Linked DNA regions of Homo sapiens: regions 1, 2, 3, 4 and 6 are each reported to be linked to region 5. The links are microRNA targets in miRTarBase. Many come from high-throughput screens and were not tested one by one. Region 5 holds a microRNA gene; each other region holds the end of a gene's coding sequence.
The links. The annotated mature microRNA hsa-miR-3611 reads UUGUGAAGAAAGAAAUUCUUA and lies in region 5 at 1,858-1,878, opposite strand. An mRNA with a match to its seed (bases 2 to 7 or 8) in the 3' UTR can be bound and repressed. Matches are read on the target gene's strand: a 7mer-m8 pairs with bases 2 to 8, a 7mer-A1 pairs with bases 2 to 7 and ends in A, and an 8mer does both.

Region 1: miRTarBase lists STOX2 as a target of hsa-miR-3611. Seed matches in the 3' UTR shown: 7mer-A1 at 1,353-1,359.
Region 2: the mRNA of PPP2R5C is a reported target of hsa-miR-3611. Seed matches in the 3' UTR shown: 7mer-A1 at 983-989 and 7mer-m8 at 1,864-1,870.
Region 3: the mRNA of TFDP1 is a reported target of hsa-miR-3611. Seed matches in the 3' UTR shown: 7mer-A1 at 2,258-2,264.
Region 4: the mRNA of SLFN11 is a reported target of hsa-miR-3611. Seed matches in the 3' UTR shown: 7mer-A1 at 409-415.
Region 6: miRTarBase lists RBM12B as a target of hsa-miR-3611. Seed matches in the 3' UTR shown: 7mer-A1 at 2,420-2,426.

Annotation. Positions count from the first base shown.
Region 1 is chr4:184,016,867-184,020,952 of GRCh38, reverse strand. It overlaps STOX2 (storkhead box 2), which reads right to left. Exons shown (of 4, transcript NM_020225.3): 4 at 1-3,864. The coding sequence ends at 3,669. Among named protein-coding and RNA genes, the nearest start is that of STOX2, 110 kb to the right of the region's middle. RefSeq lists an enhancer at 3,266-3,765.
Region 2 is chr14:101,924,553-101,928,643 of GRCh38, forward strand. It overlaps PPP2R5C (protein phosphatase 2 regulatory subunit B'gamma), which reads left to right. Exons shown (of 16, transcript NM_001352913.2): 16 at 589-3,425. The coding sequence ends at 720. Among named protein-coding and RNA genes, the nearest start is that of DYNC1H1, 38 kb to the right of the region's middle. RefSeq lists enhancers at 3,537-4,037, 4,038-4,091.
Region 3 is chr13:113,639,460-113,643,550 of GRCh38, reverse strand. TFDP1 (transcription factor Dp-1) reads right to left here. Exons shown (of 12, transcript NM_007111.5): 12 at 2,078-3,431. The coding sequence ends at 3,284. Among named protein-coding and RNA genes, the nearest start is that of ATP4B, 17 kb to the left of the region's middle.
Region 4 is chr17:35,348,597-35,352,687 of GRCh38, reverse strand. It overlaps SLFN11 (schlafen family member 11), which reads left to right. Exons shown (of 7, transcript NM_001376007.1): 7 at 1-2,383. The coding sequence ends at 332. Among named protein-coding and RNA genes, the nearest start is that of SLFN11, 23 kb to the left of the region's middle.
Region 5 is chr10:35,077,752-35,081,831 of GRCh38, forward strand. MIR3611 (microRNA 3611) reads right to left here and starts at 1,929; the gene lies at 1,847-1,929. All of the region lies in intron 1 of CUL2 (cullin 2), which reads right to left.
Region 6 is chr8:93,729,763-93,733,853 of GRCh38, forward strand. RBM12B (RNA binding motif protein 12B) reads right to left here. Exons shown (of 4, transcript NM_001377960.1): 4 at 1-4,091. The coding sequence ends at 3,643. CIBAR1 (CBY1 interacting BAR domain containing 1) reads left to right here. Exons shown (of 9, transcript NM_145269.5): 9 at 1-1,765. Among named protein-coding and RNA genes, the nearest start is that of RBM12B-AS1, 8.3 kb to the right of the region's middle.

The sequences.
Region 1 (4,086 bases), not on the chromosome of region 5:
ATGCTTCTGCTTCCACTGAACAGGTTTCTTCTCCCCATGGTGACTGCAATGTAATTTAAATTTACATTTTAGATGCTGGTTGGGCTATGAAAAAGAGGGACCTGGGAACAGCTGGTGTTCAGATCATTGTTACTCCGGATTAACTGTGAATTGATGCTTCCTGAACCTGACCTTCACAACATCAGAGAAGAAGTAATTTGTTATTTTTATCCAGCTAGTCTCCATTCACCTCTTCTATTTGTTTTCTCTATTTGATGGCACCCCCCCCCCTTTCATATGTTCATTATGGTCCCCTGAGATGTGCAAAATATATATAATGGAATACAAATTATTTAACAGAAGTTGTGGAATTCACAGCACAGCTCTTTTAATTAAAGTGGAGTTTGGGCTCGACATGGTAGCATGCGAGTGAAGGCAGAGCCCGAAGTGCTTCAAGCTTGGCAGTCCACATTGCTTGTGTGTCTTCTGTTACTGAAAACTTAGACTTCAAATCAGATTTCCAAAAGAGTAAATAGCTCTTTCAATTACGTTCACCCATTGGCTCTTCGCCAGAGAACTTTTAACAGGAATGGGTGGAGGGCGGGGGTGGGCACAAGAATTTTTAAACTTCCGTTCATTCCTAACAAAATCGAGTGCGCTTTCGTGGGGAAGAGAGGAGAAGACAGGATTACATCTGAAAGCCAAACAGCGGCGTAAGAGAAAGCCATGGCGATGGAAAGTCATGAGTCCACAGAGGCAATCACTGACACACACAGCACGCCATGCCCTAATGTTGAAGGAAGTGTTCAACTTTGCTCTTCTGAACGATACACTTTAACACACGGCTGCCATTTCATCAAATTTATGGAGGTAGTTATATGTAAAAATAAAAATTACCATAAAGTAATATGTTGTATCATAATAATACATAAGTGTGCAAAATGCCGACAGATGTGTTGACCCTTTCACAGAGATTCAACCAGATTCAGTTTTGTAAACCTTTCAGCTGCTAAACCCTAAGACTGGATAAGCAGTCGTGTAACACAAAGCTATGATTTTACAGGAGGAAAGGGATACTGGCAACGCCTGGCGAGGCCCCCACTGTTCCGGGACCGAGAGCCTCACCGTGACCTCGAATGACATTTGCAATGTGCTGCCGGCTGCCACTCCTCCCCCATTCAAGAATCTCGATCAGATTCAGGCAGGAATATTTTTATATGCAACATCTGCTTACATGGTATCACCTTTAAAGTCCATCATTTCTACACTAATGGCTGCTGGTCTAAGGGAGTTTTTAAAAAATTATGTACCCCATAGCATCAGGCAAATAGTGTACATATTTATTTGAATAATGTCTTCTGTAAACCTATATCTTGTGAAATATCAATAAATTCCTATTTTAAAGCTTCTCTTAAAGGTAACGCTTTCCTTTCCTGTTCACACAGTATTCGATTATTTCAATGGCTACTTTCAGAGGATCAGCTAGAGGCTGATGTGTTGTTTCAATGGTTATATTATTTATGAACTGAGAGTAGAAGAAAAATTTGAGAGCAGGTTTTTGGAAAAAATGAATTTAGACAAATATTTAGTAACTGTATGATATATAACTCCCCAAGGGAACCAACTATGTAGTCTATTAGATACATGATCATTCCTTCTGGACATATTTAAGCAATGAGACAAACAATGCGTTGAGGCATGCCTTGGAGGAAATAAGGCATGAGACTGAAAGCCAACTGGCTTAAGCATTTCAATGGTATGGGAGTTTACTAAGAAACATGCTGAAGTTTCACTATAATAAGCAGAAAAAAGGAATTTACACCAAACTCAAGGAGTTCAGTTTGACCCAATGCAACTTCCAAATAACTGAAAAACTATGAGGGAGCATTTAAAGGTTTCAAGAATGAGTCCAACTGTGTATAGGACTGGATTCTTTAAACAGATTGCTAGTGATTAAACCTCATACAAAAACAGATGCGTCTCACAAATCATATGCCAATTACTGAAATTGGAGGTGAAAATATTCTAGATTTATTTTGGGATATATATATTTTATGGTGTATGGCTCCCAACAGCACATGCCACTGAACTAAATAAAACTTTATGTCAGAACACTTACTTGTGTCATATGTAACCCTTTTGCAAATAATATTCCATTACTACAGATCTGTCCCACTGTTCTCAGAAAATAAAACATGGGAACGTTGGAATGTCTCCTTGCTATAAGATGAAATTATTGGTCATCCCTTTGCTGCTGGGTCTTCTTTGTGTTCAACATGACATTGTAAACCAAAGCAAAATGTTAACAAACCATTTGGAAATAAGTTGGTCTAATTAACTACACATCCAGCTAAAAACGCCTCCTGAAATTGGTTACAAAGTATCTGTAAACATTACTCTGGCATAGTTCATGTATGCATAATTGTTATTCTGATAAATTTTAGGGGAGTACAAATTCGGATTATACCGCACTAGCAGAATGAGCACATTCTGTTGTTTATTACATGGGCACATGTATATTTCTAATCAAAAATTATTTTAAAAGTTTTCTCTATACATATCTTCCCAGGAATAAAAGGCCTGAAGTTCAACACTCCCTAAATTTGCTCTTTCCTACAACCACTAAAAATTATCTCCCACAGCCTAATTTAGGCATTCTATTTAAAACTACATAAAATAGATTTATGTCCTTCCATTAGAAAGAATAACATCCTCAGGCCCTACTCTTCATTTGTATCACAAAGAACATTTTGCTTTTAAACAAACTAATTATTGTATCTATTAGAGTAAGATAGGGTCATCCTAAGTATCACAAGGAGGAAATTCTCTTCCTTCAATATTTGAGTAACACCTTTTACAAGTCCACATCACCTTTTCAATCACCTAATGCTGTGCCCCAGCCAGACTGGAAATTGCTTTCCTTTGTCCACTTCAGATTCAAAGGCCTATATTCCTGTTTGTGATCACGGAAGGTTAAAAAAATCAGACAAGCATCTGTGACACTTCAAAACAAAACCCTGAAAACATTCACTCCCAGTGATCTCCATTGCGACCCCTTCTCACACACTTCCATGGGCTCCTGCAAAATAGTGTCACGAAAACTCACAGTGAAAAATGACTGGTGCATAAACAATTCACACACAAAGGGCCGGGGTCCCTTCTAGTTAGTTTGGCATCTATTTCCCTCAAGGTGGACCCTTGCATTTGACATTTCGTGGTAGCTTAGTTTTGTTTTTTGTTTTTTTTTTTTAAATTTTTTTTGTTTTGTTTTGTTTTTTTTTTTTTGGAAGTGTCAAGGATCAGTTCTGTGGCACCGTTTAACCACAGACTGGGAGCAACACGCATCTGTGGCATTTTAAAATGGAATTGGCAACTGCATGACATTGAAAATGCGTATTACACTTACAGTGTCTAGACTTTCCTATGTGTGCTCAGATACAATTAGTGAAGCAAAAGTATACATATCACCCCTACTGTTACTCAGTTGCTACAGAGCCATAAATGTGAAAAGCAATACTCTGAAATAAAGATTTTTTGTTTTTTTGCCCTAGCCCTACTTAGCAGCACAGTTTAAGTAAACACAAAAACTGTGGTTGAGATGCTTGTCTTTCCAAAGATGTAAACATCAGTCCCAGTGTCGTAAACTTTGCTGTATCGAATGAGACAGAAGATCTGAGGCAGAAGGACAATCACACGCTAGTAACAGAAGCTTGCAAGCAGTTGGAAGGTTTCTGTAGCTTCTCAGCTTCATTTGTCGGGGGCTCCGCGCTCGCTCGGAAGTTGAAGGCTGGACCAGCTCCACCATGGGCCGGGCTCAAAGCGGGGTTCTGACGACGGTTACTTTCAACAATGCTTGATGTGTTGGAAGCCAGGCTCTCCCGAGTACTAAAAGAGCAAAAAGGGTTTGTTTTGTTTTGTTTGGAACATAAATAATTATAAATTGAGCCCCAGAGGAAGAGCAAATGATGTCGTTAATGGATTTCCTCTGTTGGTTCATAATGTCATATCAATATACATCTCGACTGATTATTCACATCTGCCTCTCCACCACTGGCTCCAGAAGCTTCCACAGACATGTAATAATCAGCAGCACACTCAGTGAATAAA
Region 2 (4,091 bases), not on the chromosome of region 5:
CTGCCCCAGCCTTTCAAGTAGCTGGGATTACAGGCGCGCGCCACTACACCCATCTGATTTTTGTATTTTTAGTAGAGACGGGGTTTCACTATGTTGGTCAGGCTGATCTTGACCTCTTGACCTCGTGATCCGTCCGCCTCGGCCTCCCAAAGTGCTGGGATTACAGGCATGAGCCACCGCACCCAGCCAGAAATTTCTGCTTCTTGAAATGCTTCTGTAGGGGACATGCCCATGAAATGGCTTTAATGACATTTATGAAATAGGAGGTTACTTAGGAAATTTACTAAAATGCATGAATTCTGCAAATTAGAGGTACTGAGTCCTTTGTACAAGCACTGCACATTTCAGAAGACCAGAATGCCAGTATTGAACACACAGGTCCTCAAACGAGTCACGATTTTTAGTAGCAAGACATTTTTGGCAAATTTCCATGATAAGACCTACGCCGTTTCCCTGTGGCCAGGGTGCCGCCAGCGAGTGGGTGAGGCACACGTGCCTCGCGGTTATCCTTTGACTTCCACCTCAGAAGTAAGCTTGCTTTTCAGATAGCTTAGTTTGTAGCCAACGCCATTGCATTTCTAATTCCAGGCACAGAAAGATCCGAAGAAGGACCGTCCTCTTGCACGCCGCAAGTCCGAGCTGCCTCAGGACCCCCACACCAAGAAAGCCTTGGAAGCTCACTGCAGGGCCGATGAGCTGGCCTCCCAGGACGGCCGCTAGCCTCCGGGGCGCCGCGTCGGGGCCGGGCCCGCCAGTTCTTTTCCGGATTCTGTAGAAAATACATACTTCCTGTGCCATACCAATCAGTTACACTCAAAGCTTTCTTGGACCCCGTTCCGTAGGCAATAACGTGCGTCCGCCTCAGCGCGAGATTAGGAGTTCAAACAATGGTGACTTCCCAGAGCCCGCTGGCAGAGCCGCGGGTTGACGACGGTGTCCTCGCAGTGTCGCCGCCACCCCAGCGTAGTCCAAGTCAGACTATTTCACAAAGTCAGAGCGATAGGAAAGCACCCTGCCCTTCATCTTCATGTTCTCCCAAATGGAACTTAGGATCTTTTAACATAGGTGGTTCTGTGATAACATCAGTGTTTTCCAAATCAAAGGAACGCTTTAAAAAATAGGACCTATTTTTTAAGACTTTACAGCCTTTGAAATGGTTTCCACGTGATTGTTACGCCAGCAGTTCTCGTTTTGTTTGTTTTTCAATCTCAGTGAAATGGCTCTTTGCTTTCGAGTTCTCACGCAACGTACTGGGCAAATGACAATCCTCAGCCGCTGGTATTTTCTAAGGGGTCTCTTCACTTTGATGAGTGACATGAACACCGTGTCTCCTTCTCTTGTGTGTACCTAAAGCCATATTTCCAAGTCTGTGGTACTCCAGGATTCCAGGAGTAAGCCTGTAGAAGAGATTTATTTTAAAAGAGATTGCTCTGAAATTTATCTTAAAAGAGCTTGCTCTGTCTACCTTGACAGAAATTGGAGTTTTAAAATTATGTGTTAATATTTTTATTTGCAGATTTCGTTTCCGTCAACTTAAACATTGTTGCCCTTCAACAAGGCTCTTGAATTAATAAAATTATAGTCTCTAAGAATTCCACATTTTATGGAAAGTTAGAGCAAAATCATTTTGAGTTAAGCCAGTTCTTAGCCTAATGCAAACTGCAGCGCCTTTAAGCATAAAGTAACACAACAGCATTGCACGGGGCCGGCACTGCCGCTGCCTTCACTGAAGGCTGCAGTGCTGTTCTGAGAGCTTGGAGGAGGCACCAGCGAGGATGACGTTTAGTGGAGCTCTTTCTGTTGAAAAGAGCTCACGTTATCAACACCTTGTAAGGAAAATACAGTGTCTGAGTTTTCATCGGTCTTCACATGCTGCTATATATTCCACAGAGTTCCTTGCATGTACTGAGCTTTTGTTTTAGATGGAATAGCACAAGGAGAAAAATCTTTAAACTTAGTGCTTTGTCTATTCTTTATTTCTCTCAGGGTGGCCAGTATTTTGACTTATTTATCCTGCTTGAAAGCTACTTGAGATGTGTACTGCTATTCTAAACACGTGATCTAGTTTCTTTCATCTCTGGCATAAGATTATATAACTTAATGTTAAGTGTCTTGAGGCATAAAAGACAAAATGTGGCTTATTTTAGGATCTGTTTTTTCATCGAGGTCTCGGGTATCCTTTCAAAGATAGTGAGAAGCAGACACTGCTCCTTGTGCAGCTCTGGTACCTCCTGCCCACTGCTGTCACTTCAAGCCACTGGCAATGCTTCTGTCCTCGTGTCTTGGAGGAAAATCACCTGGGGGGAGGGGACTTCTTGTGGTAAGAGCAAGTGCAGGTATGAAATGCGAAGATTGCCCCAGCTAAAAGTGGACAAGTCCGCTTTGTGAGATGAATACTTCCTGAGAAACTTGACAAGTATCTCTCCATTTTACCATTATGAAAACTATCATTAAAAAAAACAGTTTAGATGCCTTCTCCTTTTGAGGGAAAAAGGGTGCTTTTTATTGTATAAAGCAGCGTCTTATGTATTTTGATATACCATTGTTTGAACTTCCGTCTTTAGCTGATAGATTCTCAAATATCCTTGATTTTGGATGTTCAGTATGTTTGTGAGAGAGGTTTCTGGGAAGACTCTCTTTTTGCCCTCGGGAAAAAGCAAAATATCAATGTTTGGGTGACTGTGTAAAGCTCAGTGTGTAAGAACATCTTTTTGTCTAGGTTTTCTTTCTGCTCTTTATTGAAGACAAACACTCACCAAAAAGAAAAATAAAAGTTTTCAGAGAAACTAATTTTCTTTGGCAAGAGTATTACTTAATATTTTGGCCTCCTAAAGTTTCCCTAGTTAGTACTCGGACTCCTGTGCTAATTGTCAGCTTACATATCATTGTATAGAGACTGTTTATTCTGTACCAAACTGATTTCAAAAGTACTACATTGAAAATAAACCGGTGACTGTTTTTCTTCATAAAGTTCTGCGTTTGGCATCTTCACTCTTTCCAAAATGTATCTGTACATCAGAAATGTCACTATTCCAAGTGTCTTTTTAGTGTGGCTTTAGTATGGCTTCCTTTTAATATTGTACATACATTGTATCTTTGTTTTATGGTAATAAGTAATAAAAATGTAGACTTCATATTTTGTACAAAATGTCCTATGTACAGAATAAAAAAGTTCATAGAAACAGCAAATATAGGTAAGTGGCACAATTATTTTTCTTTAGAAAATATCTGTAACTTTATGCATTAGTGAAATGTTAAGTACCGACATATTTTTTAACATTTTGTAATTCAAAACTTTTTGTTTTGACATTGTTTATGAAGAGAAACTTCATACACTTGCCATTTAATATGCTCTTTTATCTAATTTTCAAAAACTCTAAAAAACGGTGTATCATATGGACTAAATAAAGAACATGTGAATTTTATTGCTCATCATGAAACTAAATTTAGCCATGGTGTTGAGCAAGCTGGCTCTGACGTTATCGGGTTCCCGTTAGGTCAGGGCCGCCCACACACAGGGACGCTGACTGCAGAGGGGCTGGCCATCTCCATCCAGCCCGCCTGGAGCGCTGGCTGCGCCAGATGCTAGCCACAGCTGTTCAAAGCTAAGTCTATCCACTGATTTTTTTACTTACTTAGTGGAAAAGGCAGTGTGACTTTTTATAGACCGCCTCTTGGTTTGGTTTGGGTTTTGGGGCTTTTTTTGAGTAAGAAAAGGTGAATCAATACAATTTATAGAAATGAAAGTCTTGAAAATAGGGAATTGCTGAAAGTATGAATTTAGGATCCTAGTTCGCCCACCTCCTCCTCAGTGGAGAGATCATTATCCTCGCTGATGCTCTTGCGAGAAGCCCATGGAAACAGGACTAAAGTGTTATCTGCTCGTGTCGTGGTTATAACCTCACCTCTCCATAGCTGCGTGTGGTCAGCACGCCGGCTGGCGTGGGAGGGCAAGCTCTGTGCTTAGCTTCCTTCTCTACCCAGTGGCGTCTGTGCTCCCTTCGCACTGACAGAGGTGCAGACGCCGTCACTCTGCAGCTGGGGGCACGTGGACGAGGCTGAGACCCAGGCAGAGTGTGGCCTTCGCCCAA
Region 3 (4,091 bases), not on the chromosome of region 5:
CTGGGTAGGTTTTGTCTCTAGGAATTTGTCCATTTCATCTAGGTTTTTAAATATGTTGACACACAATTGTTCCTATTATTCTCTCATAATCCTTTTTATTTCTGTAGAGCCAGTAGAAATGTCCCCATTTTCATTTCTGATTTTAGTAATGTCAATCTTTCTTAGTATACCTAACTAAAGGTTTGTCGGTTTTATTGATCTAAACACACTTTTCGGTTTCTTGATTTTCTCCTTTGTTTTTGTTCTCTGATTTTAGCTCTGCTCTAATTTTTATTAAATTGTTTTCCCTCTACTTGCTATGGGTTTAGATTTTTTTCTAGTGTCTGAAACTAAGTGGATTCTTTCAGATTTCCTGCATATAAGATCACATCTTGCAGGGCAGGTCTAGTGGCAGCACACTTCCTCAGCTTTTGTTTATCTGGGAATGTCTTAATTTCGCCCTCACTTTTGAAGGACAGTTTTGTCAGTTGTAGAATTCTTGGTAGTTTATTGTTTTTCTTTTAGCAGTTTGAATATACTGGCCCACTACTTTGTGGCCTCCAGTTTCTGAGGAAAACTCTGTGGATAATTTTATTGGGGGCCCCTTGTATGTGATGAATTGCTCCTACTCTGCTGCTTTCAAGGTCTTCTCTGTCTTTTGAAAGCTTAATTATAATGTGTCTCGGTGTGGATCTCTGAGTTTATCTTCCTTGGAGTTCATGGTGCATCTTGGATGTTTATATTCATGTCTTTTATTAAACTTGGTGCGTTTTCAGCCATTATTATCTTCAAATATTCTCTCTGCCCCTTTCTTTCTCTTCTCCTTCATAGACCCCACAACATGTGCACTGGTCAGCCTGATGGTGTCCTGCAGGGCCCACAGGCTCTGTTCACTTCAATCTTTTCTCTTTTTGCTCCTCAGACTCAGTTATTTCCACTGTCCTGTCTTCAAATTTGCTACTTCTGCCTTTGAATCACTCTGATGAATTTTTCATTTCAGTTGCTGTACTTTTCAGCTACAGAATTTCTTGTTGGTTTTTCAGGTTGTCTGCCTCATTATGATCCTTGCATTTGGTTCTATTTTCATTCTCTTGACTTTCTGCACATGTTCTTTGGCTTCCGTGAGCATCTTTAACACAGTTATTTAAAAGTATTTGTCTAGTGTACCTGCCAACAGATCCTTTTCAAGGACAGTTTGTTTTTATTTTTTTCCCTTTAAATGGGCCATACTTTGCCATTTCTTGGTATGCCTTGTCACTGTTTGTTGAAAACTGGACATCTGAATCTATTACTGTGGTACAACTCTGAAAAGAAGTCTCCTGTTCCCCCGGATTTGCCATTTTTGTTATTGCTGTGTTTATTGCTTTTTTGACAGCTCTAGGCTGTACCTGTGCCATGGTTCAGCCTGAGGTGTAAACGTAAGGTCTTCTCGGGTCTTTTCTGAGCCTCTCCCTGGGCAGCCCCATATATACAACACAGTTGTTTTTATACGTCCTAGTCTTCAATGTCTGGCTCCCAAAAGGGGAAAGAGAAAAATGAAGGAACAGAGGTCGGGGTAGAAAGCTGAAATGGACCAAAATTAACTGCAATGTGCTGACCAAGCCTCCCTTGAAAGCTTTAAGCCTTCAGTAGATTCCGTAGTTACAGAACAGCTGCATCAGGCAGATCCTGCCCGCGAGGTAGACATCTACCTGGGCAGCCAGATTCCTGGTGCTCCCTATTCCACCATCTTCCCAGAATCCTCTCAATCTTATTCTTGTTCTCAAAGTCAAACTTTTAAATTTTGTCTCAATTTTCATTGTGAAAAAAGGCCAAGGAACTTGGCTTATCTTTCTCTGCACCACAGGCACCGAAAAGGAAGGTGCCTCTTTGCCCTGTGTCCACCAAGACCTCCACCCTTGGCCACCTTCCACCTTTTCAGGGTGGGCTCCCGGAGGATGTGCCTCAGACAACATGTGGTGGTGGGGTTTGCACCCACAGGGACCACCCGGGCCCACCGCGTCTGGGCCTAACAACCTACTTTCTCACTCAAGTATAAAGTAAAACCAACAAGACAGACAAATTTCTAGATAATAATCCTGAATTAGAGAAACACAGCTTGTTTAAAATGCCCATGCGCGTTTTATTAATAAAAACTAACAGTGCCAAGTTAAACAAGTCAAACAATTAAAGTCTCTTTATATACCATAAAATATTACAGAAAAGTTTATTTGTGTTTCAATAAAAAGACTATCGTTTTAGAACAGGCAGCTAATAGCAACTGTGCAGTTAATGGGTTTTGTGAATAAATTTTAAAAGAGACTACTGCCTGTCCTTAAATTCCTTTTTCTTTTTATAAAAAAAGAACTATTAAAAATGATTGACAAATTTTGAGTTAAAAAATTGTTAAAACATTCTCTATATTTAATTTCAATTTTATAATAGATTACAGGAAGATGCTTATGAAACAAATACATTTGTTTCAGTACATGTCTTTAAATGATAGACTTATAAGTATGTAAACAACTATATAATAAAAGGTTTCCAAACGCTGCCTGTAAGAAATCAGGCAAATTTTACCATAAGCAATAAACCATTCCAAGCCTTCCAGACAGTCTCCATAGCCGCACCAGCATGGCAATAAGCTTTAACCAAACGAAAACAAACAAACAAAAGCACTTCGCAATTTGTTGCTGCAAAACAGGGAGAGAAAAGAGTGTACAAACTTGATGGAATCACAACAGTCAATATAATTTAAGGGACAATAAAGTCAATAAGGTTGATGGTGTTTATTGTTTAAAAAGTTGAATTCTGCTGTTTGCTTGGGGCTGTTTAGAAAGTTGCATTCTGCTGTTTGCTTGGACACCGTACCACTGAACAAACTCCACAGAGTCTTGCTATCCGCCAGCAGGGGTGCCGTCCAAACTCACGGCAAATAAGCGGCATCAGGGGCTCACCATCCACAACAGGAGGTGTTTTATTTTCATGGATGTGGTTGAAATACAATTTCTTCAGCAAACTCAGCAAAAACTTTTCAGGGGCAAAAATGAACTCTGCACTTAAAGAAAAATAGCAAATGAAAACACAAAATCCTAACAAGTAAATAAACGCTCTGCATCAGCACACTGGTATCAAAACACACATCCACAGCACGTCCTAATCCTACGGGAAACAATCCTTGCTTATCAGAGGTGCATATCTAAATTCAATAGCTTACCAATATCTTCTTGGGAGTAGGCCAAAAGGAAACAGAAAACCCACATTAAAAAAAAAGTTTCTTTTCGCTAAACGTTTTCCTGAAGCCGAATCTGAAGTGGGGAGGACGTCAGTCGTCCTCGTCATTCTCGTTGAAGTCATCGTCCTCCTCGTCGTCCTCCCCGACGTAGGACACCGGAGTCTCCACCCTGGAGCCGCTGTACTGAGACCCATTGGAGCTTGTGGCCAGCATCCCATCTGCACCGTTGGTCAGGTCACTGCAAGGCAGGAGGCGGATGGCGCCGTCAGTGCAGGCGGCCCACCCAGCCTCCCCCCGCCTCAGGGCTTGTGGTCAAATGACAGGCTGTGCCCCACAGGTGTGGGTTTTGTCAGTCACACAAACAGAACGGGGAGGCTGAGTGTCTGCACTACAGCACGCCAACGCTCTGGCACTTACTCCATCTCTGTCTGGTTCTCTTCTGGCCCTGTCTCCTGGAACCCATAACGACAGAAACAGGAGGCTGAGCAGAGCCACACGCTGCCTCTCCCTCACTCATCATTCCATCAGGAGCAGTGCCCCAGAGGGAACAAACTGTAAAACCATTAGATCCCTCCCTCCGGGACTTTCACTCATAACCAGCAACAGGAAAAAAGAGAGCCCGGGGCAGGACAGGATGGAGTCCAGAGCGTGGGTCGAATCTGGCAGCGGGGACTGAGAACCCAGAGGGCTGGCAGCACCACAAAAACCTACCACCAACCAGAGCTCACTACGTTCCTAATGTTTAAAGATGTTTTCAATTAACATAAAACCATATGTACATATTTTAATACATTTTAATGGTATTTATTAACACTACAATAAAAATGTGTTAATGTGCCTTTTGATGAAGTAATTCTGTATCTTGGAAACAAGTCAGAAATGGCGAGAAATTCAGCTG
Region 4 (4,091 bases), not on the chromosome of region 5:
TGGCAGACACGTGCAGGCGCTTCTTTGATAGGGGCTATTCTCCAAAGGATGTTGCTGTGCTTGTCAGCACCGCAAAAGAAGTGGAGCACTATAAGTATGAGCTCTTGAAAGCAATGAGGAAGAAAAGGGTGGTGCAGCTCAGTGATGCATGTGATATGTTGGGTGATCACATTGTGTTGGACAGTGTTCGGCGATTCTCAGGCCTGGAAAGGAGCATAGTGTTTGGGATCCATCCAAGGACAGCTGACCCAGCTATCTTACCCAATGTTCTGATCTGTCTGGCTTCCAGGGCAAAACAACACCTGTATATTTTTCCGTGGGGTGGCCATTAGGAAGAACTCCAAATCAAAATGCTATGTAAATGTCTATGGGTGACAGTCTGCTGATGGTAGAAACCTTTCTTTTTAGTTCACAAGTCAGAGATTTGGACGGAGCTGACACAAAGAGTTTGGAGCTCCCCCATTTCTGGCTCTCCTTTCAGGGGTTCCTTCCCCAACCCTTTCAGCAGCGGTGGCTGCCCCCCATTCTGACCCCTGACTCTTCCAGCCAGAAAGATGGTGGTTTTCTAAAGGAACTTTAGCTGTCCTGCACAATGCCGATCTGTGTCTTGCATTTTGGGTAAAAGCCATAAAAATAAGAAACTCAGCCTGTGGCCTTTCTTTCTTCCAAGGCTGGGCTTCTTTTTTTAAGTGACTTCATGCAGTTTGTTGCTTTTAAAAATTTGTCCAGAATCGTTTTCTGCAGAAGCATGGTCTGTTAGGAGCTTACTGGCCGTAGCAGAAGCAATTGTTTCCTGAATTCTTGACATTTATCTTTGCTGTATTCATTTAGGGCTTGGGAGAGTCCGAAGATAATTCAGTCACTGTCAGATTAATAATTTTGTCAGGACAAAGAATACCGTTATGATTATTTAATCCTTTAAAATTGTGGTCTCCAGAGCTTGTTCTCAGAATGGCCCAGACCAAGCCTTAATTGTGATAGTGAATATTAATGGTCACTTTAAGGAGAAATTATAGGCCAAGATGAAATGAACATAAACCTGTTTGCCCTGGCTTTCAGTGGAAGATGATATTAGAGACCAAAATCTGGTTCTGAAGGTGTGTATCAGCCCTAAGGTGAACCAGACTTGGGAAAGATTGTCTTTAAAAATCAATGAGTTTATGTTTTAACTTCTCAGCTTAGTTCTATGCATTGCTCTATAACACACCTAGTTAAGTTTTATGTTATTCTTGAACTGTGATTTTTTTTCTATTTACTTTCATGGTTTGGTGGGCCATTGTTATGGACTGAATGTTTGTGTCCCACCCTTCACCCCCAAATTCCCGTGTTGAAGCCCCAACCTGCACTGTGGAGCTGGGGCTGCTAAGGAAGTAATTAAGGTTACATGAAGTCATGGTGGGGCTCTGATCTGCTAAGGTTGGTGTCCTTATAGGGAGAGACCCCAGAGAGCTTGTTCCCTCCCTCCCTGTGCATGCAAACAAGAGGGCATGGGAGCACACAGAGAGATGGCAGCCACCTACAAGCCAAGAGGAGAAGCCTCACAATCAAACTCTCGCTGCTGGCGAGAGTCTTGGACTCTGTCTTGGACTTCCAGCCTCCAGACTGTGAGAAACAAATTTCTGTTGTTTCAGCTTCTCAGTCTCTGGTGTTTTGTTATTGCAGCCTGAGAACACAGCTGTACGATTATTTGTCAAACAGAAAACACTGATACTTAACAATGCTAATGCAATTATTTATTTGCTTTTCAGTCTCTACAAAACGTTCTAAAACACTAATCTAAATATTAACAGTAAAATATTTGCATAACTAATGGAAACTAAGAAATCATATGACCAATATTTCACTTATTGGTAATCTTACTCTACTGATTTCCCCCCAGACTGTGATTTTTGAACTTCCTTGCCTTTCTCCTGTCTTTCTGTGTTTATTCATGGAATTCCAGTTATCTGGGCTTGAAATTGCAGGCTCTCCTAACTTAAGCAAAATCTGACAGATCAGCAAAATGAGATAAATGTTTCTTTTTTCTTTCTGACTGCATTAAATCAGATACAACTCAGCATTAAAAAGCTATCTTTGTAAATGTTGTTACTAATAAATTAGTCTTATAAGATCCCTGGACTTTGGAGTTGTTGCAATGTCTTTGAGAGTAATTCTTTAAAAGTCTAATTTCGACTGGTTGTATCTCTTTATGATTTATTGCCCCACTAACAATATTTGAAACAATATAATATTTTAAAATGTATAAATAATTATGAATTTTTGTTTAGAACAAAGAGGATTACTGATATTTGTTTCCCTATGAATGGCAAAAGGTTTAGCTTACTACTGCATTTCTGTTTTAAATAAAAAGTTGAGAGTTTGTGTCTCATTAAACTGAAAAAAATGGTCTTGTAAAATAAGTGCTTAAATGGGGGAAAAGGAGAAGACTGAGGCCAGTGACTCTGTGAGAGGGCCAAAACGAGCCAGTAAAAGATTAAGCAACATTAACTTTCAATTTTTTTTTTAAGAGACAAGATCTCACTATGTTGCCCAGGTTGGAATGCAGTAGTGCAATCATAGCTCACTATAGCCTCGAACTCCTGGGCTCAAGTGATCCTCCTGCCTCAGCCTCCGAAATTGCTGGGATTATAGGCATGAGCCAGTGCACTAGACTCAGTTGGGTTTGGATGGGTGCCTGCCCATCTCTGCAATCTGCCTCTAGACATCTGGGACCTACTTCACTAAAGATCTGAAAATCTACCCAGCCATTATAAAATGAAACAAAATGTTTTTATATTTTAAATTAACTTTTTATTTTAGAGTAGTTATAGAATTACAGAAAAAGTTACAAAGATAGTACAGAAAGTTCCTGTGTCCCCTTCATTTAGTTTCCTCTTTATTTTATTTTATTTTATTTTATTTTATTTTATTTTATTTTATTTTATTTTATTTTGACAAGGTCTTGCTCTCTCACCCAGGTTGGAGTACAGTTGGGTGATCACAGCTCACTGCAGCCTTTAACTCCTGGACTCCAGTGATCCTCTCACCCCAACTAGCTGAGAAGCTGGAACTGCAGGTGCATGCCACTACACCTGGCTATTTTTTTAAAAAAATTTTGTAGAGGACGGGGTCTTATTATGTTGCCCAGGCTGGTCTCAAACTCCCAGGCTCAAGCATTCCTCCTGCGTGGGCTTCCTACAGTGCTGGGATTACAAGTGTGAGCCATTGCAGTGGCTATTTCCCTGTTTTATTACTGTATTGTTGTGATGCATTCATCACAACTAAGGAACCAACCTTACTTAGTACATGACTATTAACTAAACCCCACATTTTATTTGGATTCTCCAGTTTTTTTTTTTTTTTTTTTTTTTTTTTTGAGACGGAGTCTTGCTCTGTCGCCCAGGCTGGAGTGCAGTGGCATGATCTCGGCTCACTGCAAGCTCTGCCTCCGGGGTTCACGCCATTCTCCTGCCTCAGCCTCCCGAGTAGCTGGGACTACAGGCGCCCGTCACCACACCTGGCTAATTTTTTGTATTTTTTTAGTAGAGACCGGGTTTCACCGTATTAGCCAGGATGGTCTCGATCTCCTGACCTTGTGATCCGCCCTCCTCGGCCTCCCAAAGTGCTGGGATTACAGGCATGAACCACTGCACCCGGCCTGGATTCTCTAGTTTTTCTCTAATGTCTTTGCCTACTCCAGGATCCCATCCAGGACACCATACTACATTTAGTGGTCATGTTTCCTTACACTCCTCTGACCTGTGATGCTTTATTTTTGATGACCTGGACAGTTCTGAGGAGTACTGGTCAGGTATCTACAAATAAAATGTCCTTCAGTTTGGGTTTGTCTGATTTTTTTCTCAGACTGGGGTTATAGGTTTTCAAGAGGAAGACCACAGGAATGAAGAGGTATTCTCATCACATCACATCAAGGGTATATGCTATCAACATGCCTTATCACTCATGATATCAACCTTGACCAGCTGACAGAGGAAGTGTTTGCCAGGTTTCTCTACAGTGAAGTTACTTTTCCTTCCTCCTATGTTGCTAAGTGCAGCTCACACTCAAAGGGTGAGGATTGAAGCTCCACTTTCTTGAGGGGGCCAATGTCT
Region 5 (4,080 bases):
GGTTGCGGTGAGTCGAGATCGTGCCATTGCATTCCAGCCTGGGCAACAAGAGTGAAACTCCGTCTCAAAAAAAAAAAAAGAAAAGAAATAAAAATAATATTAAAAATATATATTTACAGATGTAATGATATGCTGTCTGAAATCTGCTTCACAATTAAACAGCTTGCTCATGAGTTGATAACTGTTAAGGATGAATAAAAGGGACATGGGGATTTATTACAATATTCTTTTTTTGTATGTGTTTACAATTTTCCATAATAAAGGAATTTAAAAATCCTACTCCTCATAAACATTAATATTTTCATAAATTTAGGGGAGAAAGCACATCATCTCTAACTGAAAGCCGTTACTAACCTTCCCTTCTGAGAATCTTAACTTTCCTGTGAGTTTTAGGTTTCCAAAGTTGTAGGAGAGCTCACAAAACACATGGTACTGTCCCTAAATGTGATGTGTTAACATAGCCTGACAAAATGTCCACCCCTAAAAAACTTAAATTACTAATAGCAGAAATAAAAAATATATATGTTTGTTAAGATCAGGTGAATTTTTTTTTTTTTTTTTGAGATGGAGTTTCTGTCTTGTTGCCCAGGCTGGAGTGCAATGGCATGATCTCGGCTCACCACAACCTTCACATCCCAGGTGTGAGCAATTCTCCTGCCTCAGCCTCCCAAGTAGCTGGAATTACAGGCTTGCGCCACCACACCGGTGTAATTTTGTATTTTTTTTTTTAGTAGAGACGGGGTTTCTCCATGTTGGTCAGGCTGGTCTCAAACTCCCAACCTCAGGTGATCCCCCTGCCTCAACCTCCCAAAGTGCTGGGATTACAGGCGTGAGCTACTGCACCCAGCCCGACATTTTTCATATAAAGAGATTTGTTCCTGTGAACTCACTTGCTGGAGCAAAAAAACAATTTAGATAATTTCAGCAGGTAAAAGTTACAGTATCTCAAAAGATGCATTTTGGTGTTTTGTATTTTACTTACCTTCTAAAAGTATAATTATCAATAATGTAAATGGCTAACCACTTACTATTTTGATTCTCTTTATAGTGAACAAAACTCCTGAATGACGATTTATTTCAGTACTGATCAGCAGCACCAATAAAAATTTGGCATCCAAAAATTATCAGTAAGATACAATAGAGTGGTCTAAGTTGACTTCAGATAGTTAAGACACCATAATTAGTTTTTTAAATGCCACTCAATAGGCTTAGAGCAGATTTCCTTCCAAATGCATAAAATGAGAAAATACTGAAGACCCAATAAAGAGCCTTACAGCAGTCCCCTGCCTTATCCAAGGGGATACGTTTCAAGATCCCCAGGAATGCCCGAAACTATGTTTTTTCATATACATACATACCTATGATAAAGTTTATTATATAAATCAAGCACAGTAAGAGATTAACAAAAACTAGCAGTAAGATATAACAATTATAACAATATGCTATAATAAAAGTTACATGACCATGGTCTCTCAGAATATCTCACTGTGCTGTACTCGCCCTTCTTGTGAAGGTGTGAGACAATACAATGCCTATGTAATGAGATGAAGTGAGGTGAGTGACACATGCATCGGAAGGTCGGCATTGGGCTACTTACTACTGACCTTCTGTATTCCTGAATATGTGTTACAGTCCCTGACTTAGAGTAAATGGTTTGGTGTCATTCGTCTCTGGGGATCCCTTGCTGAGTCTTCAAATAGGCTCAATGCTTTCTGGCACAGTATGTTGCCATCAAGTGGAACTTGTCTCTGCTCATGTCTTCCACCCACCAGTGTAATGCCTTTTCCAAATTAACTAAGCACTTATTACACGATATAACTATCACTTTTACAGATTGAGATTTGACAGCAAAACTAGTAAGAATTTCTTTCTTCACAATTTCTTTTCTTTCATAATTGTGAAGAAAAAGAAATTCTTATTAGACCTGCTTACAGTAGGTCTTAGCAATCTCAGTCTATTATTTTTTTCTTTCCTCATTGAGAACTTTCAACTTTTCGTGTAAAGGAAGCACTCTATGGCAGAAGCCTCTCTGGTGTATCCATATTGCTAGGATCACTACTCCTGTACTTTGGGGGCCCTTACTAAGTAAAATCAGGGTGACTTGAACACAAATACTGCAAAACTGCAACAGTCTATCTGATAATCAAGACAGCTACTAAGTGACTAATGGCAGGAGGCATCCACAGCGTAGAGATGCTGGACAAAGGGATGATTCACGTCTGAGCAGGACAGTGCAAGATTTCATCACACTACTGAGGACAGTACAGAATTTAATTATGAGTTATTTCTGAAATTTTCCATTTAATATTTGCAGACCCCATTGACCGTGGGTAACTAAAATGCAGAAAACAAAACTGTGAATAAGGGAGGCAGGGAAGTGGAATACCATATTAACTTGGCATTATTTTCCATTTCCATAGGTGGGCCCAAAGCTGCCAATGGTGCACAATGACCAAATATGTTGCCATCATTTAATATTAAAATAAGCTCCAAGAATGCATCTAAACATTTTCATCTTGCTGTATCAAATGAGCAAGCCACTGGATGTAACTAAGAATGCCCTTTCTTATTTGGAGGTTAAGGGTGCAATGTTTTTTGTTGCACTAAGGTTTGACCCACAGAGCTCTAAGTACTCCATAAACAACATTTCCATCATGACTTTCTGGCTTTAGAATTCCTATTTTTATTTATTTATTTATTTATTTATTTATTTATTTATTTATTTATTTTTGAGACAGGGTCTTGTTCTGTCACCCAGTGCAGTGGTGTGATCCTGGTTCACTGCAGCCTTGACCTCCTGGGCTCAAGTGATCCTCCCGCCTCAGCCTCCTGAGCAGCTGGGACTACAGGCACACACCACTGCACTGAGCTACTTTTTTGTATTTGTAGAGATGGGGTTTCACTATGTTGCCCAGGCTGGTCTTGAACTCCTGAGCTCAAGCTTCCACCAGCCTTGGCCTCCCAAATTACTAGGATTACAGGCGTGTGCCACCGCACCCAGCCTAGAATTTCTAGTAGGTTTTTTACAAAAACAAATGAGTTGGGGAAAAAAGAGTGAACAGACATATGGTGTGTGCCAAAATGTATACTGCAGGAAAACATCTTGAAGTCTCAAAAAGGGTGACACGGTGGGGAGTAGGGAATGTATTCATAATACAATAAGTTACAGAAGCCATTTGCACCCAGGTGTGGTGGCTCACACCTGTAATCCTAGTACTTTGGGAGGCTGAGGTGGGAGGATCACTTGAGCCTGGGAGTTTGAAAACAGCCTTAGCAACATAGACAGACCTGGTCTTTAAAAAAAAATAAAATTATAGTAGCTGGGCCCTCTGGTAACATGCGCCCGCAGGGAGTCCCAGCTACTCAGGAGGCTAAGGTGGGAGCTTGGCTTGAGCAAAGGAGACTTCAAGGTTACATTAAGCTACAATGGCACCACCACACTCCAGCCTGGGCCAAAAGACCAAGATCTTGTCACAAAAAAGCAGCTACCTGCTTCCAAAAATAAACCCACTGCACCAGAATAAAAGACCCCTCTCTGCAATGAACTTTAGACTCCCATAAGACTGCACAGCCTATACTTTGTTTCTTAAGTTTTCACATCGCTCTTATCAGCTTGAAGTTTAACGCCATTTTCACTTGCTTTCTCATTTTTTGTTCAATAATCTAGTCAACGAATTTAAGAAACTGACATTTTTAAAAAAAACTATTCTCATATATGTATCCCCGATCTCAGGTAAATTAGAGAATTTGAATTTCTGAGTCCTTCATGACTAGGCAAGCCCATCGTGTATGAATACTAGACAAAGCTAGAACCAACCAGCCTTTACACAAATTATCAAAACATTGAGAACAAATTTTTTGGCTGTGTGCAGTGGCCCATACCTACAATCCCAGCACTTTGCGAGGCCAAGATGGGCAGACTGCTTGAGCCCAGGAGTTCGCAGCCAACCTGGGCAACATGGTGAACCCCGCCTGTACAAAATACAAACAGATCAGCCAGGTGTGGTGGCATGCACCTGTAGTCCCAGCTACTAGGGAGGCTGGGATGGGAGGATCACTTGAGCCCAAGATGTGACCGCA
Region 6 (4,091 bases), not on the chromosome of region 5:
GTAAGACTTAAGTACACTTAAAAAATGTGAAAAACCATTCCTAGCTTCCACTACAACAACAACAAAAAACAGGCAACCAATCCAACCAACCCAGCCTGTAAGTCTCCATCTCTTATCTCCAAAATAGGAATACAAATTGAGTATCCTTTATCTGAAGTGCTTGGGACCAGAAGTATTTAAGACTTTGGATTTCTTCAGATTTTGGAGTATTTGCATTATACCAGTTCAACATTCCTAACCCAAAAATCTGAAATCTTAAATGCTGCAATGAGCATTTTCTTTGAGCATCATGTTGGCACTCAAAAAGTTTGTGATTTTCGGAGCATGTGAAATTTCAGATTACCAGATTAGGAATACTCAACCTGTAGTACATTTACTAGGATTATCAGAATTAAATGATAGTTAATTCATACATAATTATACATCATATAGTATCTAATACAGCTCAATAAACAACAGCTAATATTTACTGCAAAAACAGAGGCAGCAAGGTCACTACTTAACAGGTGATATATGGATCAAGAATCACTGCTCTTAACAGTGATCTCAGTAAATTAATAGAAATGCACTCCTAACATGATTTTTACCTATCTCTTGGTTGTGGGATTGACTTTCTAGACATGATCTACATTTTTTTAGATAATTTCTAGACAAAAATGTTTGGCTTTAAGACAAATGCCACTGGGTATCAGGCTAGAGAATACACCTCCAGTGTACCTGGTATACCTTGAGGATAGGAGAGGAAAAACTGGCTATGAGACGACAATTACTGAAGCTGAGTGATGTGTACATGAAAATTTACTATTCTTTTTTTATATTTGAAATTGATGAGGTGCTGGGAAGCTGGCTTTCTGAGGGGACAACAGGAGGGGAATTCCTTGATTTGCTGCATTTATCACTTTCCATGGTGTAAAATACTCCTGCCATGGCCAATTTGTTATTGACATATCACTAAAGGCAGAGTTGGAGAGAGATGTGCAAAGATGGCTCCCAACTAGAAGATACCACTTTCTGTAATCAACTTTTTATAATGAAGTTTAAAAATATTAAGCCCTGATACATTATAGGGTAAAAGGAAATATTCATATAAATTAATTTAAAAATCAAAATACAAGGCTGGGCACAGTGGCTCACACCTGTAATCCCAACACATTCTGGGAGACCAAGGAGTGAGGATTGCTTGAGGCCAGAAATTTGAGAACAGCCTGGGCAACACAGTGAGACTCTGTCTCTACAAATAATAAAAAATTTAGCCAGACAAGGTGGCACACACCTGTAGTCCCAGCTCTCAGGAGGCTGAGGCAGGAAGACAGCTTGAGCCCAGGAGTTAGAAGCTGCAGTGAACCATTATCAGACCACTGCACTCCAGCCTGGCCAGCAGAACAAGACTCTGACTCTTAAAATAATAAAACTACAAAGCTTATGTTTACTCTAGCTGGCCTCTTATCTACCACCACCATCCCACCTCAGCCCAGTTTGAAATGCAATTCCACAGTAAGTAATCCCTCACGTTAAGCTTCATCTTAGCTTTATTCCTTTGTATCTGAGAAGCATTTTTTAACTTTCCATATATTATTCAAAATGGGTGACCAAATGAACCATCTATACAATCTTTGCTCAATTAAAAATATCATTTCTACTTTCTTCATTGTGCTTGGTTTGGATATTCCAAACAATCAATTTAACATTATCCTAGCTACTTACAAGCTTATACTTTAAAGAATCATACTGAGGTGCTTTTTCATATCAAATTTACCTGTTTATTCATTCCATAGCAAGCAGGATATTCACTATTTAAAACAAATTTAAGCAGATTTCTGTTAGATTTCTTTAAATCACTGAAAAGTAACACAAAAATACATATAGGTAGTAACTAAGTACTGACAAAGTATTCTACCTATGCAATATCCTATTAAATGTCTAAATTACCATATGTAAATTTAATTGTATTATTTACTCAATGGGGAAAATCTGGATTACAGAACTGAGGAAAATTATGTTTTATGTAAATTATAAAAGGCCAAAGTCAATCATGTTGAATAAAATAATTTTGAAATATAAGCCAGTAATATACCATATGAGTATCCCAAGAGAAACCCTGGATAGAAAGAAACTTTTAAAGTCACTCTTTTTTTTTTTATTAGTAATGTTAATGTTTGAGCTCAGTGTTTGAGCATGCTGGTTTTACCTATTTATGCTAATTTTAAACCAACAATTGAAGTGAGAAAATAATCATTTATCCTTGAAAGTATCTTTAGCATGGTCTTCCTAATTAAAAATACCACTTAAAAAAGTGAGGCAGCAAAAGCATGAACTGGAGTCAGTGGTCTGTCTGGGTTAAAATTGGCCCCACGATTTACTACCTATGACTTCAAGCAAGTTGCTTAACCTCGCACTTCATCCCACTTCATTATCTCATTTGTGAAATAGAGGTAAATAATTAACCCTGTACTCACAGGGAATACCGAGATTATGCATGTAAAGTGCTTACAGTGCCTAGCACATAGTAAGTGCCTAATAAATGTTAGCCATAAATATTATTGTGGGTATAGAAAATCAAATTCCCTAGTTGCAAAATGTATGCACTAAATGCTGAATATCAAAGAAGTCAAAATTCAACCACACAAGTCTTAACAGTTATAGAGTCTTTGCATGGACACAGTTTCGAAGCTAAAAAATGAGAACCTAATATTACATGCAAGTTATGTGACTCATCAGTAAATTCTTCCTAGAAAAACAAACTATACCACTTGTCAGATTCTTCCAGCATAAGCCTGAGTCCCCTTGCACCTATAATTAGATTCTTATTTTACTATCTTTTGCGTATCTTGTATTAATTTTACTTGGTTGATAAGATGTTGAAGAAACCATGGAATTATACACAGCACTATACATTATTACTATAGAATGTCTGGTCCCTCCCATCATAAATATGGTTTAATGAAGTTATTGAAAAACTTCACAATATCGAGCTGCAATTCTTTTTTCTTTTTATACAAATACAAGTTAATTAGCTCTATTAAGTTGCAATTTTATTTTTATAAAGCTTTGTAAAGTTATGAACATGGAAACCCTAAGAATCACCTAAGCTTTTTACATAAGTAAATTTCAAGTTGACAGTCTGTCCATTTTGAACTATTTATAATTAACAGGACACTTAACACAGTAATATCTTAGACAAGGAAGAGGGCATTAATTCTGCAGGCAGGTAGCAATGAAAATGCCAAACCTGAACAATCAGTCACTATTTCCTTATACAGTTTGAGTAAAAGAGGTAGACTACAGAAAGAAAAAAAAAAGTGAATATAAAATGTATCTTCCCCAAATACAACTCTACTTCAATAAGTCTTGAAGATTACCGATGACATCAACAAAAATGAATGAACTCAGGGAATGAGTTCTTTCTCCCCATCAAAGAAAAAAACAGCATGTGTAATTTTAAATTTGAAAAAAAAAAAGAATGGCAATTTGCAAGCAAAAGAAAACCAGATTCACATTCTACTATTTACATTTGTTCTATTCACAGGTCAAAAATAAAATATTTCATTAGATAATTTAAAAAAAAAACACTTTTTTAAAACAAATGTATTTTACTCCATCAATACTGCAAGGAAGATAACTGAATTTAGAAATGCTCTCTCTCTACAGCAAAGTTAACTTAACTTTTCGGGGCCCAACTGGCCTATCATTTAGATCTTTAATAGCAGCCATAGCTTCATTATAGTTTATCATAGCAACAATGGCTTCCCCTGTAGGTAAGCCTTGCTCATTATACTGTATCGAAACTGAATCAGGTATGATTCTGTAACCATGGAAAAAGTCTAAAATTTCATTCACATTAGCTTTAAATGGAAGATTCATTATCTTAATAGGAGTTACTCTACCTGAACCACAATTTATTTTTGGATCAGGCATAAATCTCCCCTCAGGAAAACTTCCCATATTATGCTTTCCAAAATCAAACTTGCCACCTTCTGGGCGACCAAAATTCACAAAAGGGCGGTGACTTCTAAAATCATCAGGCGGGCTCCTAAAATCCTCACCAGGAGGTCTAAAATTGTCAGGAAGTCTAGGGTCCTCCTCCGGAGCTT